2 separate regions of the Homo sapiens genome follow, and region 2 is linked to region 1. Evidence: fine-mapped QTL for protein levels in blood plasma. A gene starts in region 1. The other region holds a variant in brackets. All regions are shown on one strand. Distances are from middle to middle. Region 1 holds the start of ECE1 (endothelin converting enzyme 1). Region 2 overlaps ECE1 (endothelin converting enzyme 1).

The links. A credible set is the group of variants that fine-mapping cannot tell apart. PIP is the posterior inclusion probability: the model's chance that the variant is causal. The UK Biobank Pharma Proteomics Project read protein levels with antibody pairs (Olink). The fine-mapping took linkage between variants from a reference panel, not from the people measured, so its PIPs are less certain.
Region 2: its variant is the best candidate, but not a certain one, in a credible set for the plasma level of the ECE1 protein (UK Biobank, PIP 0.77).

The regions. Positions count from the first base shown.
Region 1 is chr1:21,288,413-21,292,412 of GRCh38, reverse strand. ECE1 (endothelin converting enzyme 1) reads left to right here and starts at 1,950. Exons shown (of 19, transcript NM_001397.3): 1 at 1,950-2,049; 2 at 2,257-2,343. The coding sequence starts at 1,999. RefSeq lists silencers at 1,869-2,048, 2,099-2,268 and an enhancer at 2,945-3,506.
Region 2 is chr1:21,217,661-21,221,660 of GRCh38, reverse strand. ECE1 (endothelin converting enzyme 1) reads left to right here. Exons shown (of 19, transcript NM_001397.3): 19 at 1,530-4,000. The coding sequence ends at 1,706. Among named protein-coding and RNA genes, the nearest start is that of EIF4G3, 43 kb to the right of the region's middle. RefSeq lists a silencer at 3,418-3,623. The variant T/A (reference allele first, on the strand shown) is at 2,121.

The DNA.
Region 1 (4,000 bases):
AGAGAGGAGGAAAAAATGTTCCAGATAGAGACAACAGCAGCTACAAAGGTCTTGGGGGAAGAAGAAACTTGTAGAAACTGAGGAGTTGTGTGAGGAGGTTGGTGGGGGAGGGGGCGCTGGCAGCACAAGATGAGGGCCCAGAGTGGGCAGGGGCCATGGGGCCTGGTGAAGGGTTTGGATTTCATTCCAGGACAGTGGAGGGTTTTTAAGCAAGGGAGTGGTAATATCAGAATTTTTTTTTATTTTATTTATTTACTCAGACAAGATCTTGTTGTGTCGTCCACGCTGGAGTGCAGTGGTGCAATCACAGCTCACTGTAGCCGCCACCTCCTGGCTTCAAGCGATTCTCCCACCTAAGCCTCCCAAGTAGCTGGGACTACAGGCGCATACCACCACGTCCTGCTAATTAAAAATATATAATATATAAATATATATATATATATTTTCTTTTTGTAGAGATGGGGTCCGTGTTGCCCAGGCTGGCCTAGAATTAGACTCAAGTGATCTCCTGCCTCAGCCTCCCAAAGTGCTGGGATTACAGGTGTGAACCACTGAACCCAGCCAGATTTCTGTGGTTTGTTTGTTTGAGATGGAGTCTCACTCTGTCACCCAGGCTAGAGTACAGTGGCACAATCTCAGCTCACTGCAACCTCGACCTCCTGGGTTCAAGCGATTCTTCTGCCTCAGCCTCCTGAGTAGCTAGGATTACAGATGCATGCCACCAGGCCCAGCTGATTTTTTGTATTTTTAGTAGAGATGGGGTTTCATCATGTTGGCCAGGCTGGTCTTGAACTCCTGACCTCAAGTGATCTACCCAACTTGGCCTCCCAAAGTGTTGGGATTACAGGCGCGAGCGAGCCATGGTGCCTGGCCTCAGCCAGATTTCATTTTAAAGGCTCATCCTGGCTGCTGAGGGGGCTGTCAGAGGGCAGGAGTGGAAGCCAGGAGACCATCTGGAGCCATTGCCCTCACTGTCCCTGTGACGTCAGGCCCCTCACCCCTCTAAACCTGTTTATTCACACATATGTGTGACTGTGAGAATCAAATTTGGAATGAGCAGAAATGCACTTTGCAAAGCTGAAAAGTACGCATAAATGCAGGGATTCCCGCCTTGCTAGAAGCGGAGAGTCCTTTGGAAATCTGCTGGGTTAGACCTCTCTGGGGTTCTTGGTTGGGACAGTGCTGGGCCTGAGTCCCTAACTGAACACCTCATATCCGAGAGAGCCCCCTTTCCCTGCCTAGGGTTATAGGAGAGGGCTCAGGGGCTGGGGAGGGGGGCACCTGGCTGAGGCTCCGAGTCTTGAGGGGGAAGATGGGAAAGAAGGGTCCCCTTCCTGGCTTCTGACTCCCCCTGGAGCAATGGTTCTCTTGTGTTGCAGGGAGGGCGACACCTTTGAGCACGGGGGTGACCACCGGACCACCCTGCAGCCATCCAAATGCACACACACAGCTCCTTTCATCCCGTGTCAGGGAGTTCTCTGAAATTTTCTGAAACTCATTCACGAACTCTGGCTTAAAGGCCTCTGAGCTAGAAAGGGGAACTGAAAGGGGACACCTACCTTTTTACCCCACCTTTTTTGTCTGGTCTTTCTAGCATTAACCCCCTAGACACACCTAAGGGCTGATGCCGGGGGGAACCTGTCTTGATTGCTCTGGGCCACATCGAGGGCACCTTCCTGATACTTTTGTTATCTGCCACTGGGGACCCGGTTGTTGAAGGGGGACTTAAGATTTTCTCGAAGGAGGGGTCACTGTGAGGGCCTTTCCTGCCTGCTAGGGGCTTCAGTTTGGGGGCCCCCACTCCCGACCTCCGGGGAAGGGAGGGGTCCCCATCTCCCCCGGGCCTCTCGGGTCTTGGGGTCTCCCCGGGAGGCCGGAGGTTGGGAACCGGGCGCCGGCGAACCGATCAGGCCCCGCCCGCGAAGGTGGTGCAACGCCTGGCCCGGCCCATCCCATCCCGGCCACCCGGGCAGCGGGACCAGGCGTCTGGGGCACAGCATGCGGGGCGTGTGGCCGCCCCCGGTGTCCGCCCTGCTGTCGGCGCTGGGGGTGAGGCGGGCGCGGCCTGGAGGGCGGGGGCGGGAGGCGGGCGGGACCCCTCCCCGCGCGGGCCGCTCCGTGGGCCGGTCTCGGTCTCGGGTGTCCAGGCCGGGGCGGGGCGCGGCGGCGGCGGCGCCAGGGTCGGGGCCGCTTCCCCATTCGGGCGCGAGAGCCATGGAGGCGCTGAGGGAGTCCGTGCTGCATTTGGCCTTGCAGATGTCGACGTACAAGCGGGCCACGCTGGACGAGGAGGACCTGGTGGACTCGCTCTCCGAGGGCGACGCATACCCCAACGGCCTGCAGGTAGGCGCCCTCCGCTCCCTCCCGAGGTCCAGGCGCCCCGGGCCCGGGCATGCGCGCTGCCGCTGCCGCGCCCCCCGCCCCTACCTACCCCGCCTCTTCCCCTCCCTTCCCCTCCCTCGTCCCGGCATCCGGGAGGGGCCGCGCCTCCCCGCAGCTGGAGCTCCGCGCTGAGAAGCCTTCCGGAGCCCACCAGTCTCCCCTCACCTGCCCCCGCCATCCCTAGAGCCTCCCGGCCACCTGCTTCTGGGGCCACAGCCCAGGTGGCAGAGTTGAAAGCACCCCCGAGACCCGAACTGGTCCAGTTCCCTTTCCACAGAAGGCACAGTTTGTGCATGTCCCGGGACTTGCCCAGGCCCTTTACCGGCAGAGTCTACGGCTGTTTCTGTTTTAGCGTGGAAAGCCCTGCATCCCTGGAACCCACTCCCCCAGTCCGGGGCAAACTGGGAAAGTTGGTCACCTTATCCGGGAGGCAGTACCACCCTCTTCCTCTTGCCCTCCCAATACCTGAGTTTCCTGGGGCCAGAAACCTGTTCTCTGCCCCCTCTCCCTGCCCCTTTTCCAGCCTACTAAGGAAGTCCAATTCCTCCCCTCCCCAGGGTCTCCGCCCGTGGGCATCCCATCTGCCCACTCCTGGGGAGGGCCCCACCCCCGTCCCTGCCTTGTAACAGGACATTGAGCAAGGCTGCTTTCTGCCCTCCCGTCCCTGGGGGGCTGCACTGGGACAGTTGTGGCCAAGACCTCAGTGCTGGAGGGGTTTGGAGCCAGCCAGGTGCGTGGGAAGGTGCTGGAAACGCTGCGGACACCCTAGGAGACCCAGTGATCTGGCTCTTGAGAAGCCAGTGTAGAAAGAGGAGCTGGGGCACCCCAATTCTCGGAGGACTTCTGCCAGGTAGACCAAGGGAAGTATTTGGGAGAATCTTGGGGCCACTTGGTGAACTGGCACACAACTCTTCCCAAAGGCGAGCTTAGGATGAATGGACGCTTAGTTGCCAGGCCCACTCCACTCAGATACGCCTCTTAGAAGCGGGAATAATCCTCCCAGCGCAGGGAGACACCATTGATGGAGTTCCTCCTCCAGGGTCACATAGGCCCAGGGGACCCAAACTCACAGTCCCAAGGGCTCTACCCACTGGGATGTGTGGTACCCCTGCTTAACCTTCAGGAACACCCCTGAGACCTGTAGGGATTACTGTCCCCACTTACAGATGTGGAAACTGAGGCTCTGAGAGGGGCAACCACTGGCCTTCGGTCACCGAGCTAAAAATCCGAGAGCGACACGTCAAACCCTGTCTGTCTCAAACCTCTTCCCAGTGGACTCTTCTTAAGAGGCTGAAGCCAGCAGGAAATTAGATTTCTGGGGCAGGTGCTTTTCCCTTCTCAAATCAAAACAGAATCTAATCAGCAATGTTTTTCAGTCTCATCTTCCACAGAAGGGTCTAAATATATCAACACAAAAGCATTTCAGAATTCACAGCAAAGTAATAATGCCATGTTGCTGTTATCCTCACAGCAGCCTGTTTGGGGTATAACCTTTTTCAGATGAAATAGCACATTTCTCTGGGGAGGGCCCCCGGCCAAGCAGGAGGAGCCCCGTCTCTGAAGCCAGCGACCCGGGTTTGAGTTCTTACTCCACTCACGACCTTGGGCTAGTGGCTTA
Region 2 (4,000 bases), 71 kb after region 1:
CCACAGATTGAGAACTTCCCAAGTCACTGGACTGTGCACAGCACATGTGCCCTGTCATTAGAGAGATGCACGGAAGGGCCCAAAGTACCAGTGAAGGGATTCCTGGATCTGGTGAATGAGAAGACGAGGTGATCACCCAGGGCCCTTCTGGTTCTAGGGTTCTAGAGGTTTCTTAAACTTAAGATGACCAGCCAGGCACAGCAGCCCACGCCTATAATCCCAGCACTTTGGGCGGCCGAGGCAAGTGGATCACCTGAGGTCAGGAGTTTGAGACCAGCCTAGTCCACATAGTGAAACCCTGTCTCTATGAAAAAATACAAAAAAAAAGTCAGGCATGGTGGTGGCTGCCTGTAGTCCCAGCTTCTTGGGAGGCTGAGGCATGAGAATCACTTGAACCTGGGAGGCAGAGGTTGCAGTGAACCAAGATCACGCCACTGCACTCCAGCCCGGGCAACATAGCAAGATTCTGTCTTGCTGTGATCATCCCAGATCATCCCTTCAGTCGGCATTCATCTGGTAGCCTTCTGCTGGCACTCAGAGCTACCAGGCCATTAGACAATTTGTTCTGCCCAGGAAATGAGAGATCTGGACTAAATCCAAGCTTTTCCAACTGGTGTTTGGACACAGTCCTTTGTTCAGATGGAATCGAATGCAGTTGCCTCAGAGATGCTGCGCTGGCTGAAGGAGAACAGTTTGGAGACAACTGCGTTAGAGGCTGCTGGCATGGGGGGTGGCACACCAGCCCTACACCAGCCCACTGTCTCTTCCTGACCCGCTCAGGGGACCCTCCTGACTCCCCGGGATCTCAGGATCAGGTGGGGGGCTTATCTCCCTGGTGTTGTATTTTCTGGGTTTTGTTTTTTTGGAGCCGGAGTCTCCCTCAGTCACCCGGCCTGGAGTGCAATGGTGTGATCTTGGCTCACTGCAACCTCAACCTCCCGGGTTCAAGTGATTCTCCTGCCTCATCCTCTCATGTAGCTGGGATATAGGCACGCACCACCACGCCCATCTAATTTTTGTATTTTTAGTAGAGACAGGGTTTCACCATGTTTGTCAGGCCGGTCTCGAACTCCTGGCCTCAAGTGATCCACCGCCACCTTGGCCTCTTAAAGTGCTGGGATTACAGGTATGAGCCACCACACCCAACCTTGTTTTGCTTTTTGAGACAGGATCTCACTCTATCACCGAGGCTGGAATGCAGTGGCACAATCACAGCTCACTGCAGCCTTGACTTCTCCAGCTCCAGTGATCCTCCCACCTCAGCCTCCCCAGGAGCTGGGACCATAGGTGTACACCACCATCCCTGGTTAATTTTTTTTTTAATTTTTTGTAGAGATGGGGTCTTGCCATGTTGCCCAAGCTGGTCATGAACTCCTGGGCTCAAGCAGCCCTTCCACCTTGGCTCCCAAAGTGCTGGGATTACAGGTGTGAGCCACCGCACCTGGCCTCCCCTGCTGTTATAATGGGGGCAGTCTGGCAGCCCGAGGGCCCCACAGTGACCCTGGCCTCTCCCTGTTGCCCCTTCAAAGGTCTGGTGCTCCGTCCGCACACCTGAGAGCTCCCACGAAGGCCTCATCACCGATCCCCACAGCCCCTCTCGCTTCCGGGTCATCGGCTCCCTCTCCAATTCCAAGGAGTTCTCAGAACACTTCCGCTGCCCACCTGGCTCACCCATGAACCCGCCTCACAAGTGCGAAGTCTGGTAAGGACGAAGCGGAGAGAGCCAAGACGGAGGAGGGGAAGGGGCTGAGGACGAGACCCCCATCCAGCCTCCAGGGCATTGCTCAGCCCGCTTGGCCACCCGGGGCCCTGCTTCCTCACACTGGCGGGTTTTCAGCCGGAACCGAGCCCATGGTGTTGGCTCTCAACGTGACCCGCAGTCTGATCCCCTGTGAAGAGCCGGACATCCCAGGCACACGTGTGCGCCACCTTCAGCAGGCATTCGGGTGCTGGGCTGGTGGCTCATCAGGCCTGGGCCCCACACTGACAAGCGCCAGATACGCCACAAATACCACTGTGTCAAATGCTTTCAAGATATATTTTTGGGGAAACTATTTTTTAAACACTGTGGAATACACTGGAAATCTTCAGGGAAAAACACATTTAAACACTTTTTTTTT[T/A]AAGGAAAGAATTGGTATATTTATTATGTTCTGTTTTTCTAAATAACCTGTGGACAAGGGAAGCCCCACTGATTTACTCCCTCTCTTCCCCACTCCCTGTGAGGCTGGGCTGAGGCACGGATCCCTGGGCCACAGAGCAAGTCTCCAAATCAGACAGCTGCCTCAGCCCCTGGGATGTGTGATTTCAGCTCCTGTCACCTCATGCAAGGGCGTGGAGACCAGTAGAGGTGTGGAGGCCAGGCAGAGAGAGGAGCCTGCTCTGCGGGGGGCCCAGCTCATGGGCACTGCCCCTTCAGCTAGCCTGCCTCCGTCCCCTGAGTCCAACAGTGGGAGCCCTAGCTGGGAAGTTCTGATCCCCAAAGCCACAGCAGGGGACTGATGGCTATAGCAGAATGAGGTCGGGTCAGGACCCTCAAACACCATCTGGGAACACCAAGCACCCTGAATCGAGACTGCAGGAGCCCTGCGGGGTGAGACTGTGTCAGAGATACACTGCTGGCCACAAGTGTCCCCTCTCAGTCCCACCTTTTCGGGCTGTCCCATGTCTATCTCAGGGGCCCGTTACCTCTCTGCAGCAGTCCCCCATCCCAGCCACACCAGGGTCTGTCCGGCCAACCCTCTTCCCCAGGGAAAGGAGAAAAGAGAAAACAGGCTGGGCCCGGTGGCTCACTCCTGTAATCCCAGCACTTTGGGAGGTTGAGGTGGGCGGATCACCTGAGGTCAGGAGTTTGAGACCAGCCTGGCCAACGTGGTGAAACCCCATCTCTACTAAAAAAAATTACAAAAATTAGCCGGGAGTGGTGGTGGGCACCTGTAATCCCAGTTACTCGGGAGGCTGAGGCAAGAGAATCTCTTGAGCTCAGGAGGCAGAGGTTGCAGTGAGCTGAGATTGCGCCACTGCACTCCAGCCTGGGTGACAGAGGGAGACTCCGTCCCAAAAAAAAGAAAAGAGAAACAGCTGTCACCTCCCGCAGGACCCAAATCCTCTCTCTGAGCACCGTCATCCACCACATGGCTGGGCCTGGCTCCCAGGACCAGTCCAGTCCTCTAGTGCCTTATCTGAGGCTGCAGCCGCCAGTCTCCACCCCAAGGAGACAGCCCCTGCTCCTAGATGCCCTTGGCCTCCGCAGTGCAGCCCCCAGGTGTCCTGACTGAAGCACAGGCCATAGCCCCATTTCCCCGGTGCCTGCAGGGCTAACCTCCACGGGAGCCCAGGAGCTCTGGCCGGCAGGTCCATGGCACAGGGCATCGGAAGACTGCAAAACTGCTGGACTTACCCTGGGCTGCAGTCCATTGTCGGCCCCTGGGTTGAATCAAGATAGTACTTGCAGCTAGATGGATGCTTTTAGCCAGGGGACATTGTGAGGGGAAGATTCCTCCACCCAGTCTGGCCTGTGGTGTCTGTCTCCTCCCTGAGACCACAGCTTCTCCAGTAGCAGACTCATGGGCGCCACCAAGTGGAAGCACCTGGAGCGGCCTCTGCCATCCAGTGGGGAAGCCAGGCCCCGAGACGGAGGTGGGGGCAGCACGTGCCCTCCACAGCCACCGCTTTCCCGCCTCAGCAGCCCAGGCCTCCTGGCCCAGCCCTGCCTGGACAGTGCTCTCCCCTCACCCGGGAAGCTGGAATCCTCCTGCCCGAGAGGAAGCAGACGGCACAGGGACACCCCTGCCACCTTGGGATCTGCCTCCAAGCTGGTGCAGGGTATCGAGAGTGGATTCCAGATGGAGGTCCTGGTCCCAGCACGCAGCAGTCCTGGTAGCTCTGCAGAGGAGACAGGAACCCGAGAAGTAGCTGAAGCAGAAGCCAGCCGCAGTCCCCTTGCCACATAGAGGCGGGCTTCTCCCAGCCATGGTGTCCCCTCTGCCTCCCCTCCCCCGAC